Regions from separate parts of the Homo sapiens genome. Here region 2 is linked to region 1. The links come from fine-mapping of genetic effects on gene expression. A gene starts in region 1. The other region holds a variant in brackets. All regions are shown on one strand. Distances are between the middles of the regions. Region 1 holds the start of LINC00173 (long intergenic non-protein coding RNA 173). Region 2 holds the start of MAP1LC3B2 (microtubule associated protein 1 light chain 3 beta 2).

The links.
Region 2: its variant is fine-mapped to the expression of LINC00173 in cerebellum (GTEx, PIP above 0.99). The same link has a PIP of 0.9 or more in sun-exposed skin.

The regions. Positions count from the first base shown.
Region 1 is chr12:116,526,517-116,539,184 of GRCh38, reverse strand. It overlaps LINC00173 (long intergenic non-protein coding RNA 173), which reads right to left and starts at 5,750. Exons shown (of 3, transcript NR_027346.1): 1 at 5,569-5,750; 2 at 2,974-3,065; 3 at 2,672-2,832. RefSeq lists enhancers at 1,571-1,800, 3,841-4,375, 10,190-11,389 and silencers at 5,784-5,833, 5,738-5,939.
Region 2 is chr12:116,549,540-116,562,207 of GRCh38, reverse strand. MAP1LC3B2 (microtubule associated protein 1 light chain 3 beta 2) reads right to left here and starts at 2,827. Exons shown (of 2, transcript NM_001085481.3): 1 at 2,775-2,827. RefSeq lists a silencer at 450-744 and enhancers at 450-744, 2,234-2,333, 2,374-2,423, 2,644-2,983, 2,823-3,332. The variant TAAATATGCATTTTAAA/A (reference allele first, on the strand shown) is at 6,264.

The sequences.
Region 1 (12,668 bases):
TCGGGAGGTGTGGTTTCTCAGATCCCCTTGGCACTCATTTGACGTGTTGTCAGTTTCCTGCCTCTTTCTGAGCTATTGTTCCTTAATTTAGGGTAAGTAGACATAGATTCCAGAAAAATTGCTGATTTGCAAGTTTAAAAAATCTGGGGTGTCCTTTGTTTAAATAAAAGTGTACAAGGAAACTGAATCTACAAAGAGACACAAGAATTGCTGGATGGTTGAAATAGAGGAGGGGAATCCCATAGCCACAGGTCACCCAGCCACCTGCTCTCTTCCACTGGCTTCCTCCTTCCCGCACATTTTGAAAACTACTGACTAGAGTGAATTCCTGCAGCAGGGGCGGGGCTGGAGGCACAGGGCAGGATAGAGCATGGAGGAGGGAGGTGGTCCCGGTGGTGGTCTCTAGCAGCATGAAGATGCAGAGGAGCTGCTGTATGGGTCTGCCTGCCCATTAGTGACAGTGTGACACGGGAGTTTAGGACATCAGGTCTTTTTGTCGATTCCTCCTTCTTCTGGTAAGAGCACCCCAGTTTTCTTTGGGGGAACCACTCACTCTTACTGTGTCCAGGTGGTCTGGCTGGGCTTCAGCAGTGACTGGAACCTGGGCACTTAGATCAGTCCATCCCTGTTGCCAGAGTCACTGCTTCAGCAATGGGCAGCTGAATCTATCAGAGCACACTAAACCTAACCCTGGGACTTTTATGGAGGCAACCAGGAAAAAGGCTGGATTTGACTCTGGAAAGATGTAAAACAGGTGAAGTGAGCCAATCTAAACATGAAACCAATACAGGGAAAAGCAAAGCCAAAAAGCTAGAGAGAGGGAAATTCCTAAAGACTTAACTGAGGGCCTGGATCCAGCCATGCCTGAAGCTTATCCAGACCTTGCTTCTCAAATAATACAATGTACATTTTCCATCCGGTTTAAGTTCATCTAAGTCAGGATTTTGTCACTTTGCAACTGAAACCTCATGACCAATACACATGGGCAGTTTATTTAACCTCTTTCAGTTTCCATTTTCTCATTTACCAAGTATCTCTAAAAATCTATATAAAGCTTACCTTCAAGCAGATCTGTACATATACACACATATATCACAGCAGCAATAAGATATTATCAATAGTGGTAACTATTTTGCATATGCATTAGTGTTAAAGAAGGCAAAACAAAGATTGGTTAATATCAGTTCACTTTCTTTTCTAAATGAGAATGGAGGGGGAGTAAAAGTTAAATAAATGTCCATTACCAACGGGAATGGAGGAAACAGGAGGAGGCCACGTGCTGACCAGAAAATGGGGAGGGGTCTGATGGAGGCTGAGGTTCCCACAGTTCTGCAGATGGAGGCTGAGCCCGAGGGAAACCCCTCAGCCCCTATCAGCCCCCAGGTCCTTGAGGCCTGGGAAAACCAGAGGGACAACTGAGATAGATCTGTCTTAGGAGCAGAAGGTTCAGAGGCCCAGACCCTATAAATGTGGGTCATGCCCCAAAGAAGACACTGCAGCTCATGGCCAACTTGATGCATGGGGCCAGATCTTCCCTGGACAGACAAACTGGCCTTTTGTGGCCGAGAGAGCTGTTCCCGGGGATTGCCATCTTGGAAGGCCATTGTGGTCTGCTCAGGAACCCTTGAAATCGAAAGCCCTGCGCTCTCCTTGTCACAGCCGTCGCACATAAATACCACCAGGGGGGATTTCCCATGGAATTTTTTGCAACCACTCAAATGTTTCATTTCCCATTGTTTGCCAGTCCCTCTCAGAGCCTCAACTGTCAAAGCAGCAGCAAACACAGGCTGCTTTTCCCCCAGGATCCCATGGCGCTCGCTCTTGCGTCCCCTCCATGTTGGGAAGCTGGCATTGGCAGGATATCATCAGCTCAGGCCCGGGAATAAGGTCTGTTAGTCAACTAGTGAAGCAAGTCAGCGAAGGGAATACCCGGCCCTGCCCAGCCCATGCTTGCTGGGGAGGCACAGTTCTGTGCAGTCACCCTCGTTATAATTATCATCATGGTGACGAATAATTGCATTTATACAAAGAAATTCCTTCCACACATCTGAAGCACTTGACCAAAAAATACACAATGCAGCATTAATGTTTCACTTTTAGAATATGAACTTGGCCGGGTGCAGTGGCTCACCCGGGTGCAGTGATTAAATGCCTGTAATCCCAGCACTTTGGGAGGCTGAAGTGGGCAGATCACTTGAAGCCAGGAGTTCGAGACCAGTCTGGCCAACATGGCGAAAGCCCGTCCCTACTAAAAATACAAAAATTAGCCCGGGTGTGCTGGCTCTTGCCCAGCTACTTGGGAGGCTGAGGCATGAGTGAGAATCACTTGAACCCCAGAGGCAGAGGTTGCAGTGAGCCAAGATCGTGCCACTGCACTCCAGCCTGGGCGACAGAATGAGACTCTGTCTCAAAAAAAAATAAATAAATAAACTTGAATCACTTTTTTTCTTGACCCCAGGAGCTTTAATGGAATTCCAAGTTGTAGTCCATACATCAGTGCTGAGAAAAGATGATCCATGTCAACTGATTGATTGACGGATTGAAAAGCATTTGTTTTGAGGCAGGCACCGCACTGTGCATTTTGGGGACCCAAATATGAAAAAGACATAGCTGCCTGTGCATAGGAGCCAAATGGTCTAGAGAGAGGCAGAGATCACAAAGCAACATGGGATGCCAGAGTGACTGGGAGTTTATTTGGGGGATATTGATCTGAAGGGTGAATAGGAGTCTCCAGGCAGGCACATGGGTGGCCCATCACCAGTTCACGTGATCTGAGTACATGTAGGATAAATGACCCCAGGCAAGGCTGGGTGGATGTGGCACAGCCTGACCCTGTGGAGATGAGGAATAGTACGATATCCGTTAAATATCCATTCACTAGGGCCCATCCACTGCACCACAGATGTTGCCCTAGAATGGAGTTTAGCCATGTAGTCATTCATTCATTCATCCATTAAAGCCACAGATATTTACCGAGCACTCACGATGTGCCAAGGAAGACTAGGTGCTGGGGAGGCAGAGGTGATCAAGATCAATCTGGTATCTTTCCTTTTGGAGCTTCCATACTGGTGGAGCAGAGGGCCATTAAACAAATACACGTGTCAAATAATAAAGAAATATATAGTACAGGCTGGGCACGGTGGCTCAAGCCTGTAATCCCAGCACTTTGGGAGGCTGAGGTGGGTGGATCAGTTGAGGTCAGGAGTTCGAGACCAGCCTGGCCAACACGGTGAAAACCTGTCTCTACTAAAATTACAAAAATTAGCCAGGCATGGTGGTACGTGCCTGTAATCCCAGCTACTTGAGAGGCTGAGGCAGGAGAATTGCTTGAACCCAGGAGGTGGAGGTTGCAGTGAGCCAAGATCGTGCCACTGTACTCCATCCTGGGCAATAGAGCAAGACTCCATCTCAAAAAAAAAAAAAAAAAAAGGAACTATACAATACAATAAAAGACAACCTAATACACATAAAAGCATCTGCCTGCCCCTCAGTTTCTGAGCTCCCACTTGACACCAAGTGTTGTGGGGGTACAAATTTGGGTCAACATTTTGTGTAGCAGAACTCTGGGGACCAACCAGAACTCCTGAAAACAGGATGCCACTCAGCAGTGACAGCCTCACTTTCCCATTTACTGGGCTTTTTTTTTTTTTTTTTTTTTTTTTTAACATCTCTGGACACCTTGGATCCTGCCAGCAAGCCTCGGGAGGCAGTTTAGGAGTTATTTTCTTTACTTCTCAGGGGAGGAATCCGAGGCTTGGAGAGGAGGAGGGATTGACCGGCCTGGGGTCACACAGCTAGAAAGGCCAAGATTGCTATGCCGTTTTTTTTTTTTTTTTTTTTTTTTTACAAAGAAAGAACAGCGGAGCAAGGTGGCCATTTTATTTTCTCAAAGCCACACTACCTGCTGCTACACAGGACATAAAAGTGCAAAATTCCACCAGGAAGGGAAACAAAACAGTCTTGAGACAGCCATGTCTCAGAGGTGAAGATTGGAGGAGATTTTAATATAGGGTGTGAATTCCAATTCACATCTCTTCCAACGGGACCTCTTTCCGAAGTCCCGGGAACTAACATTCATCAACACCTCTGACATCCCAGAGGATCGCAACATTCCTGCCAAGGGTTATTACTCCCATTTCCCAGATGAAGAGATTGAGTCCCTGCAGCACGCAATTAGACAGTAGCAGAACCAGAATTTGAACTCTGATCCACCCCGATTCTGGGACCTGTGGAGCTCCAGGTACCGAGAGCTGGCTCTCGCCTGGGGCCTTGGAGTCTGGGTAGCTGGATGCTGGGAGAGGCTGCGGAGGTAAGGGCCCAGGGGCTGAGGTTGCAGCGGCTGCCCGGGAATGCGGCCCTTGCACGCCCACTTTTTAACACAGTGCCATCCCTGACAGACACCCTTGTCCTTTTCCTGTGCTGCCCTTCGTAACACCATAAATAAAGCCTTAGAGTAACGTGACCTGAGCCAGGCAGTAAATGATGGCACTGTCAGTTGTACACGACTGTTGAAACAAACACAGACTGTAATCATCGTGCTGTACGGGGAGAAAGACATTTGGCAAATGAGATTCCATTTTCACATTGGTTTGTGCTGAGCATATAAATTTCCTGCGGGCCGGCCAGCATTGGGGATGTGTAATTGATTGCCTGCATTATAATAAACAAGCTGTGACAGGTGATCATTCATCATATTCCGCTGAACGTTCCAGCACACCAGAAAACGGAGGAAGAGAGGGAACGCGCGAGCAAGGGGAGAGGAGAGGAGGAACCTGGGGGAGGGGAGGGGGTCGGAAAGACCGAGTATTCCCGACAGACAGAAAAACCAGGGGAGGGGCGGGGGAGGGAATCCGCTGAGCGGGCGGGGGAAAGTGAAAGCAATTACTATAATTCTTTTGATTATCTAATTTGTTCTTTCTGGCCTTCGTTATATGACCCTCCCCCCCTCCCCCCACTCCAACATAGAAGGTCCCCCACGGGGACTTGGGAAGGCACAGAGAACGCTCCCTCCACGATCGAGGGAAGGAAGGGGGGAGGCAGGTGGGGGAGGGGCCGCGTCTAGTTGTAACCGGAGTAGATACATTCGGGAAAACCTGGGGGGAGAAGGAGGAGGAGGAGGGGAGGAGCGTGTGCAGGACTTAGCTTTGCTCTTGCACTGAGATGCCTCCAGTCGGATGGATAGGAACCAGCCTCTTTAAATACATTTTTTTAAAGGGTGTCTGAAAAACAAGTGAAAAGTTCCTTTTATTGGAGAAAAAGGACAGCATCCAAGTTGGCATCAGATGTGGTTCCACAAGCCTGTCATATGGTGCTCTCATTCCTCCCCCTCGCTCCCTCCGCCCCGCCCCAGCTCCCACCTCCCCACCCCCACTGCAGCCCCAGCCTCTCTGTCTCTCTCTCTGTGCCCTTGGCCCGGGGCTGGGGGTCGAACAGCAACTGCTGGGAAGCACCCTCCTCTCCAGGAGCTCCCACCTAGACAGACAGAAGGCGGAGGTACACTGGCATATGAAGGACAGAAAGACAAATGCAGAGCTCTCGAGCCAGCACACGCATTAAATAAGTACTTACATTATGCAAAAGCCAAGGGCCTCAACAAGGGGGTGAATGAAGAAGGGGGACAAGGAGGGCTGCGTCCCAGACTAGTTTCCCCAGCTCTCACCCTGCCAATTTCCAGCCCCCGCCTCCCTATCCCGCAAGCGTCCTCCCATTCCCTCCCTGGTACCAAGCGCTTAGAGCAGGTGGGAGCCTCGGACCCAGAAGGCTGGGAGCTGAGGAGGCGTGGCTTGCGCTAACATCGGGGGCGGGGCCTGGCTGGGGCTTAGTCGGGGCGGGGCCCACGCCGGAGGGGGCGGGGCGAGCACAGAAGAAAGAGCGTTAGGGGCTCCTTTGCCACTCGTTGCACGCTGCTTCCCAGAGTCTTCTGCTATTTCATCGTAGCCTTAACAACTGGAATCTGTCGCCTTCGAGATGTTCCTAAAGTCACTGCTTTGGGAGAATCTGTTCAAGGGACCTGCTTTCCAAAAGCAATGACATCAGCCCAGCAACGTGATCTGTGTTGTCCTTGAAGGATTAACAACTCATTTGGGTCTCCCAAGAGCCCTAGGAGGTAGCCAGGGCAGGTGCTGTTGTCCCCGTCTCACAACGACCTATGAAGTGCATGTTGGGGCCTTGATTTTACAGGGGAAGGAACACAGGCACAAAGAAACGAAGTTACTCTCTCGGGATCTGGCAATGAAAAAGTCAAAATTTGAAGCCAGGGGTCTTCTGACCTGTTCTTCAGCATCCCTATGAGAACATATACTTTCTCCCTCCAACACTCTCCTCCCATCCATAAGTGCATACAGGTGCTGAATAGGAGGGGCAGAGTTGAGTCTATATTGAATGATTGTGCATCCAGATCCTCACTAAGCCCTCTTGGTTTTGCCTGACACACGTGGCTCACTGTGTGCCCCCTGGTCCAGGCCACCTGCATCTTCCTCCTGGACCACTGTCCCCGCCTCATCACTGGCCTTCCTCTTAATGCTGTTCTCACTCCCATCCACTACCCACCAGCAGCCATGATGATCAATGATGGTCACCATCCATACCCTGTATCAACTGTCTCTCTAGCGCCATCTTTTTTTTTTTTTTTTTTTTTTTTTTAAAGACATGGTCTCCCTCTGTTGCCCAGGCTGGAGTGCAGCAGTGTGATCGTAGCTCACTGCAGCCTTGAATTCCTGGACACAAGCAATCCTCCTGCCTCAGCTTCTTGAGTAGCTGGGACCACAGGTGCTTGCCCCCATGCCCAGCTAATTTTTATTTTTATTTCTGTAGAGATCAAATCTCATCATGTTGCCCAGACTAGTCTTGAACTCCTGGCCTCAAGCTTCCCCAGTTGCTGGGGATTACAGGTGTGAGCTGCCACACCTCTTGCCTTAGCTTCCCCAGTTGCTGGGATTACAGGTGTGAGCTGCCACCATCTTTTTTTTTTTTTTATTTGTTTGTTTTGTTTTGTTTTTTGGAGGCAGAGTCTCATTCTGTCATCCAGGATGGAGTGCAGTGGCATGATCTTGGCTCACTGTAACCTCTGTCTCCCAGGTTCAAGTGATTCTCCTGCCTCAGCCTCCCGAGTAGCTGGGATTACAGGTGCCTGCCACCACGCCTGGCTAATTTTTGTATTTTTAGTAGAGACAGGGTTTCACCATGTTGGCCAAGCTGGTCTTGAACTCCTGACCTCAGGTGATCCACCCACCTTGGCCTCCCAGACTGCTGGGATTACAGGGGTGAGCCACCATGCCTGGCCAGGTCCAGAAGTTTTCCATCACCCCAAACAGAATCTCGGTACCCATTAGCAGTCACTTCCCATTCTTCCCTCCCGTTGGCCCCTGGCAGCTGCCAATCTGCTCTCTGTCTCTATGGATTGCCTGTTCTGGATATTTCATGTAAGTGGAATCCTACGATATATAATCTTTGTGTCTGCTTCTCCCACTCAGCATCATGTGTTCAAGGCTCATCCATGCTGTAGCGCATGCCAGTGCTTCCTTTCTTCTTATGGCTCAGTGCTGTTCCATTGCCTGGATGGACCACATTTTGTTGATCCATTCACTGGCTAGGGGTCATTTGGGTTGTTTCCACCTTTTGGCTATTGTGAATAGTGCTCTATGAACAATTGTGGGTAAGTTTTCATTTGAATATTTGCATTTATTTATTTGTTTATTTATCTATCTATCTATTTATGTTTTGGAGACAGAGTCTCCCTCTGTTCCCCAGGCTGGAATTCAGTGGCGCAATCTCGGCTCACTGCAACCTCTGCCTCCCGGGTTCAAGCGATTCTCCTGCCTCAGCCCCCCGAGTAGCTGGGATTACAGGAGTGCGCCATCACGCCTGGCTAATTTTTGTATTTTCGGTAGAGAAGGGGTTTTGTCACGTTGGCCAGGCTGGTCTCGAACTCCTGACCTCAGTCAGGACCTCAACTCCTGATTCCCCTGCCTTGGCCTCCCAAAGTGCTGGGATTACAGGTGTGAGCCACCGCGCCTGGCCTGAACCTTTGTTTTCAATTGTTTGGGGTACATACTTAGGAATGGAACTGCTAGGTTCTGCAGTAACTCTGTGTTTAGCTTGTCAAAGAACCGCCACACTATTTTCCTCAGTGACTGCCCATTTTACATTTTCACCAGCAGTGCACCAGGGCTCCAATTTTTTACATCCTTGCCAACCAACACTTGTTATTTTCTGTTAAAAAAAAAAGTTTGCGCCGGGCACAGTGGCTCACGCCTGTAATCCCAGCACTCTGGGAGGCCAAGCGGGGTGGATTGCCTGAGGTCAGGAGTTCGAGACCAGCTTGACCAATATGGTGAAGCCCCGTCTTTACTAAAAATACAAAAATTAGCTGGGCGTGGTAGCGTGTGCCTGTAGTCCCAGCTACTTGGGAGGCTGAGGCAGGAGAATTTGCTTGACCCTGGGAGATGGAGATTGCAGTGAGCCGAGATTGTGCCACTGCACTCCAGCCTGGGCAACAGAGCAACACTCTGTCTCAAAATAATAGTAACAATAATAATGTTTGCCATCCCAGTGGGTGTGCCTAGCTCCATCTTTTAGATGAGATGGGGTGAGTTCAGGGTCCATATGGCCATAGACTAGATCCATCTTATACTTCTCTCCCCTTCCTTCTTGCTACTCTGGACTTTCATATCCCCAAATTGCCCCTCCGTCCTACCATGGACCTTGGCTTACGCAGTGCCTTCCTCCTTCCCATCCTCCCACTGGGTTCTGTCCACTTGTACCCCAAGGCTACCTCAGATCCTCCTCTGACAATGATCTGTCCCCCAGCCTTCCTTTCACAGCTCCGAATTTGGTTGTAATTTTACATTTCCTTTTGCAATTACTGATTAATGTCCATCTTCTTGACCTGACTACAGCCTTCCCCTAGGAAGGGACCATTCTGCTTTTGCCACCCACTGTGTCCCCAGCACTTAGCACAGTCCCTGGTAGAGACTTTGGGGAGTGCAGTGACACAATCATAGCTACTGCAGCCTTGACCTCCGGGGCTCATAACATCTTCCCCCCTCAGCCTCCCAAGTAGCTGGGACTACAGGAACACACGACCATGCTTGGTTAATTTATTTTTATTTTAATTTTTTTGTAGAGATGGAGTCTCACTATGTTGCCCAGACTGGTCTGGTACTCCTAACCTCAAGCAGTCCTCCTGCCTCAACCTCCCAAAGCACTGGGATTACAGGCCTGAGCCACCGCACCCAGCCCCAGTTCTAAGATGTTAACCACATGTAAGCCTCGGGGAGAATCTCAGGCCCTGGCCCACTTCAATAAATATTTGGTGAATTAATGCATAAGCAATGAATGAGATCCAAGTGTGGATCCTATGACCTTATGAATTTTCCTTTTCTTTTTTTCACTGATCAGTGGCACTAGCAGGCCTCAATAAGTTAGGAACTAAAAAACCTGCTTCAGGCTGGGCACTGTGGCTCATGCCTGTAATCCTAGCACTTTGGGAATCCAAGGTGGGTGGATCACCTGAGGTCAAGAGTTCAAGACCAGCCTGGCCAACATGGTGAAATCTCATCTCTACTAAAAATACAAAAATTAGCTGGGCGTGATGGTGGGCACCTGTAGTCCCAGCTACTCAGGAGGCTGAGGCAGGAGAATCACTTGAACCCGGGAGATGGAGGTTGCAGTGAGCCGAGATTGCACCATTGCACTCCAGCCTGGGCGACAGAGCAAAAACTCTGTCTCAAAAACAAAAAAACCTGCTTCAGCCATAAGGAATTTGGAAACGGATGGCATTCTAATTGCAGAATTAATACTCACTAATGTCTCCCTCTGGAACCAGGGTGAATCTGGCACCGGATTCTGAGTCTTGCTTGGGAATTGTGTTGATTCTGCCTTGCAGTGCTGCTGAAACTCTAGGAACCTTGAAATATATTTGCTTGGTGTAAACATGACCTCAGCGTGACAGGATGATCCTTGTGTTTGCCAAGCCATTAATTTTTATGTGATAACGACGACCACAACAAACTGCTTTTCGCCCACATTTTGAGTTGTTCTTAAGGTCAGGTCTGTGGGATTGTGTGAGACAAAAACCTTATAAACTAGAATGTAGCGGTGAGTTCTCTGTGTTTACAGCCCTGCTCCTACACACGGCTCCAAAGAGCTGAAAATAGAGGATTAAAAATTCATGCAGCTACTTTCTTCCAAGGAACTCCAAATGCTTCTGACAATCTTTATCCTGCAAAGTCATGAGTGGTCAGATGCCCATCCCAAGGACAGGGAAACAGAGGCCCAGAGATAATGACGGGACTTTGCCAGGCCCCTCTACCCCTGCTAATGGAGCAACAGGCTCAGATGAAGAGCCCCTCCCACCTATGTTTCTAGCCCATGCACTCTCCATTAGCCTGATTAAGACAATTGATTTATTCATTCTTAGTGGTTGAGATGGAAAAAAAAAAAAGAAACCAACATGCCATTTGTGTGATATAAATATCTCTGGAAAAAGCTAAAAAACATTGTGTCATACATATTTTCTTAATACCACAGTCAATCACATGTGTCTGTCCAAGTGCCATAGTCCATCAACCCAAGAGTGGGGGATGGGGGTGTTTGGGGGTGGGGATAATGGAGGGGACAGACTCAGCAGAGTCTCAGCTCCAGAATCCTCAGCCACTGCATGGCAAATGTTGCCACTGACTAAAGCTATGCTGGCTGTTCATTTTCCATTACCTATTGCCTTTGAAGAACCTTCTAGAAGTCTTAGAAACTTGATGTTGGGCAGAAAAATGATAGGCAGGGATGCAAAGGTGCTGGGACACCCACTCAACCGGCCAGTTCCCAAAGAAAAAGATGGAGGTTGTCACTTTCTCACTCAGTGTGCCCCATGGACTCACAGAAGGATTTAGATCACAGCGTGGTTCCTCTTCCTCCAACCCTACACCCCCATCATCAAAGAGCCTTTAATCCTGATGATTCACCTGTTAGGAATTTAGCCCAAGGAAATAATTAAAGACATATAAAAAGATTTAGTTACAGGATGTTCGTCATGACATGTAGATTACGGTGAAAGATTAGAAGCAACCTCCATGTCCAACCAACCAAAGGTGATGGCTATGTAAGTTGTGGAGTTCCTCCTTTAAAATTCTGCTCAGATCTCCAAAGAAAAAAGACTGGAAGGAAATTAACCAAGAGAATCACAGAGTTTGTTTTGAGTCTGGAAATATGAGTAAATTTTTTTTTTCCTGGAGTAAGTCCTTGTTTTGGATGTTCTATTCAAAACCAACTTAAATTTGGCTCCAATTGGAAACTTTATGACATCAGGAGGATTGAGATATCATAAAAGGAACAGGAAGGGGCACTCCATGAGGGAACCACATGTAAAGGTCTGAAGGGAAGTCGGGGCAGAGAGGAAACAGCCTCGCTGGAATGGAGGATTTCCACTGCTGTGTGCTGGGATGCATGTCAGAGAGATTTGTAGGCTGTGCACAGACTGTGTATTTTTTGAAAGCCAAGGAGAGGAAGGCACATTAGATATGATAGGCAACTGGGAGCCAGTATAGATTCTTGAACAAGAAAAGACAAATCCAGTTCCAAGGGAGACTAAGAAGAGACAGTCCAAGAAGAGAAAGTGCAGGGGACGAATCTGGTGGTGTCATAATTCTTTTATGGAAGGATCTGACTTTATTGGTTTTAGGGGTAAATGTTTCTGGAGAATCCTAGAACTCTAAATCTGCAAGAAATCTTGAGGTTGCTCTCGTTTTAGGGATAGAACAACCGCAGTCCAAAGAGTTACATCTTCCAGTCATAAGGCAAAATGGCAGCCAAGTTGGTACTGATCACTATCAGTCCTTATTCCTACCCGAGACCAGCTTGTCTCTCTGTTGCCTTCCATCCCAATTCTAAGATTTTTTTTATTTTTCCAGAGACAGGGTCTTGCTTTGTCACACAGGCTGGAGTGCATGGGCACAATCATAGCTCACTGCAGCCTTGAAGTCCTGGGCTCGTGGCATCCTCCCACCTCAGCCTCCCAAGTAGCTGGGACTACAGGAACACATAACCATGCCTGGCTAATTCATTTTATTTTATTTTTATAATTTTGTAGGGACAGAGTCTCACTCTGTTGCCTAGGCTGGTCTGAAACTCCTTGCCTCAAGCAGTCCTCCTGCCTCAACCTCCCAAAGCACTGGGATTACAGTCCTGAGCCGCTGCACCTGGCCCCAATTCTAAGATGTTAACCACATGTAAGCCTTCCAGGAGAACCTCAGACCCTGGTCCACTTCCTGGAGTCCCACCTAAAACTCCATTTTTCCATTCATTTATTTATTCATGTAACACTGAGACCCGAACATTCAAAGACAGACATGCTAATAGTTAGGGTGGAGTGGAAGGGAGATAATGATGGCACACAGTAGGTGTTCAATAAATATTTGTGGAAAGAAAGAGTCAAGGAGGGAAGAAGAGTCCCTGCCCTCAAATAGCTCAAAATGTAATTTGAGAACAGACACAAGTGTTTATATGGGATGCAAGCCGTGCTTTCAGAGGGATATGAGCCCAGGTTCTGCAGGCCCAGGCAAGACACTTCACAGAACCAAACAAAAAAAGTTGACTTTCAACTTCTTTTATTTATTATTATTATGATTTGAGACAGAGTCTTGCTCTGTTACCCAGGCTGGAGTACAGTGCCA
Region 2 (12,668 bases), 23 kb before region 1:
GTTTTGGCATCGGTCTCAGGCAGCCTCTCCCTAGGTAGCAGCAGAGATGCTCCACGCTCATATCCCACCACATAGTGGAACCAAGAGAAAGTGAATTTCTTTTCCCTACGAGTTTCGGCAACTATTTGCTCTGATGGACCCACTTTGGATCACATTCCCATCCCTGAACTGAGCTGAGTCTGACTGGTCAGGTCTGGGTGATATACCCTCTCCTGGAATGAGGGGGTGGAAGAGAGATGGTCTCCCGAAGGCAAGCCAGGATGCTGAAGCAAAAGATAGTGTCATAGATGCTGACAGGGAAAAACAATAGCCTTACTACACTTGTGTAAAGCACTGGACAATAAGAAGCACAGAGTCCAGCCTCGTTCAAGAACAGCTTTGCATGTACTTGCTCCATCCTTACAACAACTGTGTAAGGGAAGTTTTCTAATTATCTCCATTGGACAGATGAGGAGACAGAGGCCCAGGGAGGGTAAATACCTTACCCCAGGCCACACAGCTAGTAAGGGGCAGAACCAGGATCCAGCTGCCTCAGTGAATGGCTAATGGCTGCTGGTTAATGAGGTCACACTCCTGGCCTGTGGCCAAGACTTATCTACAACCAGGGACCCTCGACTCCTCCCTTAGTCTCGGGAGTCCTCAAGGCCCCATCCTGCTTCCTGATCGTTATGAAGTCTGGGGAAAGGGAAACTCGGTGTCCACGCAAACAAGATGCTGTGAATGTTTTCAGCCCAGACAAGGGGAAGGAGATGGCCAGGGGAGGACCTGGTAAACAGAAGCCTGGGGTGGCTCTGTTAGTTTCTTATGAGTGCCCTAATATCCTTGGTTTGTAGCTGCAAAACTCCAATCCTCACTTCCAAGTTCCTCTGGGACTTCCTCTCTGTGTGTCTAATCTACCCATCTACCTCTGCCACACTTTTTTTTTTTTATTTTGAGACAGGGTCTCACTTGGTCACCCAGGCTGGAGTACAGTGGTGCCATCATAGCTCACTGCAGCCTCGAACTTCTGGGCTCAAGAGATCCTCCTGTCTCAGCCTCACAAGTAGCTGGGACCACAGGCACACACCACTGTCCCCCACAGCTTTTTTTCTGAGATGGAGTCGTGCTCTGTTGCCCAAGCTGGAGTACAGTGGCACAATCTCAGCTCACTGCAACCTCTGCTTCCCGGATTCAAGTGATTCTTGTGTCTCAGCCTCCCAAGTAGCGGGGACTACAGGCATACACTACCATGCCCAGCTAATTTTTGTAGTTTTAGTAGAGATGGGGTTAAGCCATATTGGGCAAGCTGGTCTTGAACTCCTGGCCTCAAGTGACCTGCCCACCTTGGACTCCCAAGGTGCTGGGATTAGAGGTGTAAGCCACTATGCCCAGCCTTTTTTTTTTTTTAAACTATTTGTAGAAACAGGGTCTCCCTATGTTGCCCAAGCTGGATCTGCCTTCCTTTTATAAGGATACCTGTCATTGGATTTGAGGTCCACCCAGGTAGTCTAGGATGATTCAATCTTGAGATCCTAAAATTAATTTACACCTGCAAAGATCCTTTCTCCATTAAGGTCACATTCACAGGTGCTGCAGCACATTAGACTGTGGACATATCTTTTCTTTTTTTGGTGGAGGTGTGACTGGGGAGACACTATTAAACCCACTACAGTGTAAAAGTAGGCCAGATGTGATGGTTCACACCTGTAATCCCAAGACTTTGGGAGGCCGAGGTGGGCGGATCACTTGAGGTCAGGAGTTCGAGACCAGCCTGGCCAACATGGCGAAACCTCGTCTCTACTAAAAATACAAAAATTAGCTGGGCGTGGTGGCGCACCTGTAATCCCAGCTAGTCGGAAGGCTGAGGCAGGAGAATCACTTGAACCCAGGAGGCAGAGGTTGCAGCGAGCCGAGAGCGCGCCACTGCATTCCAGCCTGGGCGACAGAGGAAGACTCTATCTAAATATATATATATACATATACATACATATATATATATATATATATATATATATATATATATATATATATATATATATAGCCAAACTTAGCTTTATTTCAGAGCCGTTGCTGGGCCTGGGAGTGGAGAGAGATCAGGAGAGCGCCACCAGCTTGGATCGGTTAGTGAGCTGCGGTGGTTTTTGTTTTTGTTTTTTTTTTCTTGACAGTGTCTCCTATTGTTTTGTATTTCTCTTTTGTTTTGAGGTTTTCTGCCATCTTTTCTGGAAGGTGCATGATGCTCAGCTCTGTGGTTATTTTTGCCCAACAGCTGTGTTTCCGGTGAGCGGCTGTGGGATTCTTCTGACTCAGCAAAACTGGAGCAGTAACCGTCAAGAAGCCATTCAAGCAAGGCTAGAAATAAAGAAGCTGTTTCTTCACCGTCCCCTCCTCCTCCTCTCACTTCCCTCCCCATGGGTACCTTTTGAAAGTCTCACAAAGCACTTTGAAAAAACTACTTGGACCAGTATGCTGGAGGGTTGACTGAAGGTGGCCCCTCCGCTGGGCTTTAAGCAAACAGATAAATTCTGGAAAGGACTCTGCCCTGCCAGCCTGGCTGTGGCCTTCGGAAGGCCCCTCCCAACATGCCCCCACCCGCCGATCACATGGACTGTGTCTTACAAGTTTCCCACAGGTCTGACTAGTGAAAGCAGAGGCTGTGGGGACTTTTGTGGTTTTTCTAGGGTGTGGCCCCACTTTGCCTTCACCAGGCCTGAGTATCTATGCCGTGCAGCTTGCCTGCTTCTCAAAGGTCATGATTTCCACCCTGGGGCTGGGAGGCAGCTACATATTCCTACCCGCTGGCACAGGATCTGGCCCTGCACTCCCGAGAGGTGGCTGCGAGCCTTGCGGAGGCAGAGAGAGAACAAAATGGAAAGGAATCTTCCTCCCGGAGAGCCATCTTCTGTGCATGCCGGTGCCTGCAAAAGACAGGCGAGGCGAGACAGCTGCACCTCGGGCCTCGTCGCTGTTGCTGAGAAAGAAAGGAACAAATAAATTTAGCTCCATCCTACGCATCCTTTGCAGCTGCTGATTGACCAAACAGAAAGAGGCCTCTATTTCAACCCTGGCTTCTCAGCTTTTTGCCTGATGGGGTCTGCTATCGCCCTTTACAAGGGACTTTTGAAGGAGGAAACGGGCCGTGGCCTTATTTAGCGCCTGGCCGGCTGGAGGCTGCACAGACAGGAGTTCAAGTTTAGGGTGTCTCTTCTTGCCCATCCCAAAGCAAAATGGTGGCCCGGAAACGTTTCCAAATGGGCTTCGGCTCCTGGAATTTCCAATGTATTTATTTGGAAGCCAGAACATGGTGGGTGGAGAGATGTGTAACTGTGCCGAGGCCAGCCTATAGCTCCCGAAGCCATTAGTTTAATAGCACCATTTGTGGAAATAAAGAACTCGCTGACTGGGCTTGAAGGTAAAAGACTGGAACGAAGCACTGAGGGGGTTTCGTGGGGCTCACTAGCGTGGAGAGGTCCCTGCGGGATGGGGGACAAGCTGTGTGGACTTTGAGTCAGATAGACTTGGGTTCCAGTCCTAGCTCTATCACCTAAAGGCACGTTGTCTCTGGACAAAGAGAGCCTTTGCTCTGTGATATGTAAGTGAAATGCTAGCTGTGACACTGAACCTCTCTGAGCCTCAGTTCCTTATCTGTAAAACAGCAATGATGACACGAGGTCGTCACAAGGATTAAATGACAAAGAATACTGAACCTACATAGCCCAGCTCTTGCTGTGCCATGATGGTGTAGAGTGGCCCCTGTTTGACCTGCCCAGGCCCATTCTCCAAAGAAGCTGTACAGGTGAGGTGGCTCACCCCTGTAATCCCAGTACTTTGGGAGGCCGAGAAGGGAGGATCACTTGAGCCCAGGAGTTTGAGGCCAGCCTGGGCAACATAGAGAGACCCCATCTCTGCAAAAAAATAAAAAAAATTAGCTGGGTGTGGCGGTGCACGCCTGTGGTCCCAGCTACACAGGAGGCTAAGGTGGGAGGATCCCTTGAGCCCAAGAGGTCCAGGCTGCAGCCTGGGTGACAGAGCAAGACCCTGTCTCTAAAAAAAAAAAAAAAAAAAAAAAATAGAAGGTGTTTCTTCCCCAATCCTCTCCTTTCATTTCCCTCCCCGTGAGTACTATTTGGAAGTCTCACACGGCACTTTTTAAAAACCACTTTAAGTCCGGGTGCAGTGGCTCATGCCTGTAATCCCAGTACTTTGGGAGGCCAGGGTGGGTGGATTACTTGAGATCAGGAGTTCAAAACCAGCCTGGCCAACATGGTGAAGCCTCATCTCTACCAAAAATACAAAAATTAGCGGGACACGGTGGCACATGCCTGTAGTCCCAGCTACTCAGGAGGCTGAGGCAGGAGAATCGCTTGAACCCGGGAGGTGGAGGTTGCAGTGAGCCGAGATTGTACTACTGCCCTCTAGTATGGGTGGCAGAGTGAGACCCTGTCTCAAACAATAACAACACTTTAACCAGTATCCGGGAGGGCTGCTGAAGGTGGCCTCTGCTAGGCTTTACACAAGCAGATGGGTTCTGGAAAGGACTCCACCAAACCAGCCTGGCTTTGCCTTTGGAAGGCCCCTCCCAAGATGCCCCCACTCGCCACTCACATGGACTGGGACTCTGTCTTACAAGTTTCCCACTGGCCTGAGCAGAAGGTGGGAGGAATTTCTGTGGTTTTCTAGGTTGGCCACAGAATACTACTCTTCCTCCTCCCACTCTTTTTTCCGTAAGATTTGGGGCTCAACTTACTCTCAAACTCTGGAAGTGAGGAGGTGGCCCAGGCCTGATCATGGGGTCTCATATGCCCCTGGCCATAGTGATTCATTTCTGGAAACATCCCTGGGACTCAAGCTGGGACAATCAGAGTGAATTTCAGGAATGTTGGATGAATCTCTTAGGAGGGAGGAAATCTTTCTGCTGGATTTCTAAAAGCTCAAGTTTTACACTCAGTGCTGCCATTGGCTCTCTTTGTATAATGGAAGGAAGAGTTGTTCAGAGAATGAAGCTAACAGAGATGAAACCAAAAATGGAGAGATCATATGCTGATGACCATTTGAGCCCCTTGATCCCGCCATGCCTGAAGCCATCACCCCTTCAACTTGCTAGTTATGTGAGTCAATATGGTTCCTTTTTGGTTTGACCTAGTCTGAATTAGGCTTTTGTCTCTTGCAGCTAGAAGAGTCCTAAGTCATACCAGCTTCATAAACCTTTGGAATCTGAATTTACCTGTGGCCTCATCCAGAACTGTGAGGCAGGCCGATGACACTCAGTGCCACCTGCAGTAGTGGAGAGTCTGTGGTGAGACTCTACCTTCTGGCACGCTGATTTCCCTTAGACCCCTCTTGTGGACAGGAAGGCAAAACAATGAGAGAAGGGAAAGAAAAAAGGGGGGAAAAAAAGGGAGCGGGTTTCCTAGTAAAGTAGATTGGGCTTGAATCTCTTCTTTGTCACTCATGAGCTCTGAGACCTTAGGCAAGTGACTAACTCCCTGGGGCCCCCATTTTCTCACCTGTGGGACTTGAGTTGCAGTGAGCATATATGGGTACTAGATTCTAAAGTCAAGGTGAAGGAAAACATTTCCGTGAAAATCCCTTAACTCCGCCCCCTTCCACAAGGTATGGCACAGCCACAAGTCAGCAAATTGTCGTAATGTCAGAGACTTGTGAACAAGAGCAACTCCATCTTGAATAGGAGCTGGGTAAAAAGGGCTGCATTCCCGATGATTAAGACATTCTAAGTCACAGGATGAGATAGGAGGTCAACAAAAGATACAGGTCATAAAGACCTTGCTGATAAAACAGGTTGCAGTAAGATGCCAGCTAAAACCCACCAAAACCAAGATGGTGACCAGAGTGACCTCTGGTCATCCTCACTGCTACACTCCCACCAGCACCATGACAGTTTACAAATGCCATGGCAACGTCAGGAGGTTACCCTATATGGTCTAAAAAGGGGAGGCATGAATAATCCACCCCTTGTTTAGCACATCATCAAGAAATAACCATAAAAATGGGCAACCAGCAGCCCTTGGGGCTGTTCTGCCTATGGAGTAGCCATTCTTTGATTCCTTTACTTTCTCAATAAACTTGCATTCACTTTATGGACTTGCCCTGAATTCTTTCTTGAGCAAGATCCAAGAATCCTCTCTTGGGGTCTGGATTGGGACCACTTTCCTGTAACAATAATACTATCATCATAATGCAGCCATTTACCCACCTCCCCATCCTCCCCATCCCCCACCTCCAATCCTGCTCCTTAGTTGAGCACCAATAAATATGCATTTTAA[TAAATATGCATTTTAAA/A]CTCTAGATGAGTGATTCTCAGCCAGGGTGATTTTGCCCCTCAGGGGATGTGTGGCAGCACCTGAAGACATTTTTGGTTGTCATAACTAGGGGTAGGAATAAACGCTCCTGGCATCTAGTGGATGGAGGCCAGAGATGCCTCGAAACATCCTCCAACACACTAGACAGTCCCCACAACTAATAATGATCCAACCCAGAATGTCAGTAGCGCCAAGGCTGAGAAATCCTCAGCTAGAATCCCACTCAGCACAGAGAGCTGCTCATTCTAGGAAAGGCTGCCAGGATTGGAGACAACGAGAACAGATCCATATATTCCATTTCCATGCTTCCCGTGTGGCAAGTTCGCACGGGGACACGACAGGTCTACCCCCTTTCAATGAGGATTTTTCTCCTTTCCTTTTGGCCAACTGCAGTTAGTTGAATTTATGTAAGTTTAATGCATGCATTATGTAAGTTAAATGCATGCATGGTATAAAAGTTAAATGCATGCATGCAATCCATGTGGCAATGCTGTTTCCACCTCACAGCATTACCCTGAGCATCAGAGGAGGTCTCAACAGAATGTGCTTTGCACAAGGTGAACCCTTAAGCCTTTGCACTGACTACTTTTATTAGTTTCACTTGGTGCATGCCACATGCACAGTACATACTCAATCCAGCCTTGCTGAATGGGCTTCAATTGATAGAGTTTTCTGGGCCTTGTGTGAGAGGAGGTAACAACTCCAAGGAGATCTGGATGCACAATTCTTTCTTTTTTTTTTTTTTTTTTTTTGAGATGGAGTCTCAACTCTGCCACCCAGGCTGAAGTGCAGTGGCACGATCTCAACTCACTGAAACCTCCGCCTCCTGGGTTCAAGTGATTCTCCTGCCTCAGCCTCCCAAGAAGCTGGGACTACAGGCGTGCGTCACCACACCCGGCTAATTATTATATATTTTTGGTAGAGACAGAGTTTCACCATGTTGGCAAGGATGGTCTTAAACTCCTGACCTCAAGTGATCCACTCACCTCAGCCTCCCAAAGTGCTGGGATTACAGGCACGAGCCACCGTGCCTGGCTTCGATGCACAGTTCTTGTCTGAACTTCCAGGCATCCTCCTTCTGCCACCTGCTTCAATAGCTGCCACCTTTCTAATGCTTTCTACAGCCCTTGGCCCCAACTGCAGAGAGCACAGGATCAATTGTGCTGGGAGATCACCCTCTGGGGCTCAGCTCCAGCTCCTGCGCTTGACTCTGATCCCATCACTTTACCTCCTTGGAGTCTCAGTTTCCCTGCCAGTAAAACAGTTCCTATTCCTACAGCTCTGTACAAGATTATGGGGCTCCTGCTGACTGTAAGCCCCATATCAAACTTAGAAACTGGCACCCCAGGGGTTCAGATGCAGCCTACAGCCTGAATCCATTTGGCTGACATGTTTTTCCTTATATATTTGAATTACATTTTCCAGTTTTTTAAAAATTGAGGTGAAATCGACATAATATAAAATTAAGCATTTTATTTATTACCTTTTTTTTTTTTTTCTCCCAATAGAGACAGGCTCTTGCTATGTTTCCCAGGCTGGTCTTGAACTGGCCTCAAGTGATCCTCCTGACTCAGCCTCCCAAAGTTCTGGGATAACAGGCATAAGCCACTGCACCTGGCAAAAATTAAGCATTGTTTGTTTGTTTTTGTTTTGTTTTTCTTTTTTTTTTTTTTTAAGACCAACTCTCACTCTGTCACCCAGGCTGGAGTGTAGTGACGCGATCTTGGCTCACTGCAACCTCCACCTCCTGGGTTCAAGAGATTTTCCTGCCTCAGCCTCCTGAGTAGCTGGGATTACAGGCATGTACCACCATGCCTGGCTAATTTTTGTATTTTTAGTAGAGATGGGGTTTCACCATGTTGGCCAGGCTGGTCTCAAACTCCTGACCTCAAGTGATCCTTCTGCCTCGGCCTCCCAAAGTTCTGGGATAACAGGCATGAGCCACTGTGCCTGGCAAAAATTCAGCATTTTAAAGTGAACAATTCAGTGGCATTTAGAATATTCACAATCTTGTGTAACCATCGCCTCTATCTGGTTCCAAAACACTTTCACTACTCCAAAAGGAAACCCATTACCCAGCACTTATTCACTCCCATACCCTCATCCCTCCAACTCCTGGCAACCCTCTCGTCAGCTGTCCGTCTATGGATTTGCCTATTCTGGACATTTCATATAAATGGAATCATACAATGTATGACTTTTAGTGTCTGGCTTCATTCACTTGGCATAACCTTTTCAAGATTCAGTTACATTGCAGCATACATGATGACAGACATTTGGGTTGTTTCCACCTCCTGGTGATCATGAACTGCGCTGCTAGGAACATGCATGTAGATGTACTTGTCTTCATGTAGAGTACCTGCTTTCAATTCTTTTGGGCATATACCTAGGAGTGGAATTGCTGGGTTATATGATAAGGCTATGTTTAACTTCCTGAGGAACCTCCAAACTTTTCCACAGTGAGTGGGTCACCTTACTTTCCTACCAGCAATGTACAAGGGTTCCAACTGCTCCACTTCCTCATCAAAATTTCGTATTTTCCATTCTATTTTATTATAGCTATCCTAGTGCGTGTGATGTGGTACCTCATTGTCGTTCAGTTAGATTTTACTATGTCAAATAAAAAGATTTCCAATAAAAATCCAGTTTCACAGTTTCTCTTGGAAAAGGAAGTATCTGTCAACATCGGGACCACATTCGGGCGGAGGCATCCTCTGAAGCTACCAGGCAGCAGCCCTCCCATGGAGCTGGGACGTCCCTTTCCTGTCCTCCCCAAGCCCTACCCCTCTGATGTCTCCCCCATGGCTGAGTTGGCTACCACTTCTCATCACACGCCGCTATTGTTTTTCTTAGAGAAGAAGCCAGCCCCCGTGTCTCCATCAAAAGGGAGGAAAAGAAATAGAGACTTGGGGGGGCCCTGGGTTTCTTAAATATAGAAAGGCCCATCATTATTTGTGGAAGTGTTTAGTATGCGCCTGGGTCATTCGCTCATTTCCGCCACCTGGTCCCTGTGGGCGTCTGAGTGGGTGACACACACACAGCCAGCCCTGTCCCCACTCCTTCCTCAGCGGGGCCATGCGGACCGTACCCTTCTCCTTCTCCCCAGGCGGATGCACTTGGTCCAGCCTGGGCTCTCCTGGGGGCTTATTAACCATCCGTTCCTTCTGCTCGGCCCTGCCTGCTTAATTCTTGACTTGCACAGCTCCAATTCCCCTCCACGTCTGGGCTTAGGGCGGTTTTCTCCGCACTCTTTCTTGAAGCTCAGCGTGGATCAAGGGGCCCTGCTGCGCATGCTCACAGAACCTGGACTCCGCCCAGCCCTGGGCGCCACTGTCACTCATTAATCCCTTTCCTGATTCCTCCCCTCTTTGCAAAATTTGGACCCCGGGTGGGCGCCTTCGTAGAATCACACTTCTCAGTTTATGCCACACATTCACTATTTGTCTGTTCAAGGCCCTCCTTGTGCCTTCTTGTATTATTTTTCGCCTGCGTCTGCTGTTAGCATTTCTCACTGCCTCCCACAGGCAGTGACTCCAGTATCTTCAAAATAAATCCTTCCAACCCACTTTCCAATGCTTATGAAACATATATAGTCTTGCTCTGTGAGTGTATATTTTAAATTTATGTCCATGGTATTGTGTCATCAATCTCAGTCTAGTTCCTACTTTTTTCATTTCACACTGTATTTTTAAGCTCTATCCATGATGATGTATGCAAATTCAGGGTATTGTGTATTATTTCATCATCTGCATGTTTCAAATCTGGCTGACTCATTTCCTCCAGTCATAGACATGTAGGTCACCTTGGGCTCCTTGCTGGGACAAACTTGGCCACCACCAACATTCTCACACACGTCCTCTTATGATCCTATTCAGGAGTTTCCCCAGGATACACACCCGGGAGAGGGGTTGCCATGTCACAGATTGTTATGGGTTGGATTGTGTCCCCTGCCAAAGATATGTTGACGTCCAAATTCCCAACACCTCAGAATGTGACTTTGTTGGGAAACAGGGTCATTGCAGATATAATTAGTTAAGAGGAGGTCATACTGGAGTAGAGTGGGCCCTTGATCCAATATGACTGGTGTCTTTCTAAGAAGAGGGAAAACAATGAGCGGACAGAGGCACACAGGGAGAAAGGCCATGTGGTGATGGAAGCAGAGAGTGAAGAGACACAGCTACAAGCCATGGAACACCAAGAATTTATGGCCACCATTGGAAGCTAGGAAGAAGCAAGGAAGGATTCTACCCAGGGACTTAGAGACAGCATGGCCCTTCTGGCCTGTATCTTAGGTCTGCATCTTTAAATTTCTCTGAACATCTGCAACTTAGAACTTTCTCTCAGTGATAAGTACTGGTAATGTGATTCATGTTCATATACAAACTATATTCACCCATTCATCTATCCATTCATCCATCCTTCTGTTCATCCATCCAGCCATTCCTTCCATTTTCATCCATCCATCTATCATGCATCATTTTATCCATCCATCCATCCATTCGTCTGTCCATCTATCCACCCATCCATCTGTTCATCCATCCATCTATCCATCCATCTATTCATCCAATCAGCCATCCCTCTATCATAACCATCTGTCTATCATCCACCCACTTACCCATCCATCATCCATCCATCTATCCCTCTGTCTATCCATCCATCTATTAATCTGTTAATCCATCCATTCATCTGTTCATCTATCCATCCATCCACTAATTCTACAAGTTCTTACTGAGTACCTGCTCGGTGCTGGAGCAGAACAAGATAAACAGGTCTTTGTCTTCATGGAACTCATCACTGGTAGGGAAGACAGACATTAAACTTAGTTAGGAGTTATGAGTAGGAATTAGTTATAGCCCATCACTGTGGCTCACTTTGAGGCCAGCCTCCATCAGTTTGCTAAGAAAGGGGCATACCAATATCCACTCCATAGAAGAGATGAACAATTATACAAGAGAATAATGTATAGAATGCCTAGAATGCCTCAAGACTCCCCCCAGAGGAAAAATAAAACAAAACAAAACAAAAACAAAAGTAATTGCATAAATCCATCCATTTTTGCCATTATTAAAAAAAATCCCACACGTTAGTAACTCAGGCAGCAAAAACAAAGGAAACGGCTCCACTTTGCATTTACCTGGTTCCAGTCTTTCTGGGAGACTAAAAGATGTAGAGGCTTCTCTCATTTATCCTAGAACATGGCTATGAAGTAGTAAAGGTGGATCATGACAGATGAGGCAGCAAAGAAGCCGAGAGGTCACGCCACCTCCCAAGGTCATGCAGCTAGATGGAGAAAGAGGCGAGGGTGGAAAACGGGCTTCATGTCTCTTGGTCCACTGCAAAACACATGATAGCCAGACCAGGGAGGAATCGCTTTTCTCCATAATTGGAAATACCACCGAGAGCTAATTTCTCCCCAGTAGATCCACAGGGCAGAGAAGAGCACTTGACCTAGAGTCTTGTTAGGAGGGTGGTCTGTCATGCAGACTGCGAAACAATCAACCAGCCATCATATTTCCATTTCTCTTGGGCCGTTTCTGTCTGGAGAGAGAGAGAGAGAGCCCCAGTCAAAGCTGGGAGAGCCAGCGTGCAACGCATCCACTCAGGGCTGTTAATAATTGGGTTTTACGGATGCCCAGATTCACAGGCTATAGCTTAGTGCCTCTCCATCGATTTAACTATCATTTCAGGTCCATAGCTCACAGCTAGAAACCAACCTACATAAAACCCCACATTAGGACGCTTCCCTTCTTGTTTAGGACACTGCTTTCCATTAGGAAAACCAAACTACTTAGCGGAGAGCTTGATGGATGAGGCTGACGTTATAATCTCACTGAACAATTACAGGGCTGTCCTATTAGCGGGAGACACCCCAGTACACACATAAGATTTGGTAGACGAGATCTGTTGAACATTGAGGGGAGCCGGGAAGACAGAGTGCAGGTGGGCAAGCTGTGAATGAGCCAACTCTATCCTCAGAAGTCCCTAGAGGATTGTGTGTCAGAGACCTCTTCCTGATTTAATTTCAGAGTCCAAACAATGAAAATTAGTGACTGAAAAAGTATTTATTGAGTGCCTACTACATCTGTCTAGATCCTGGCTTAGCCAGTGGAGAAATTTACAAGGGGTGTAAATGACAATCCCTGCCCTCGTGGAACTTTCAATCTATTTAAGAAGGTAAATAAATGGATACGGATGATAGATTATACATAGAGGATAGAGAATAGATAGATAGGTAGGCATGCAGGTAGGAAGATAGGTAGATTAGAGGATTAGAGAGAGAGAGAGAAATAACCAATTGTCATAGCAGGTGGTGCTCATTTCCAACTAAATGATACCAAAATTAAACATGATAGAGCAGATTTAGCAGAT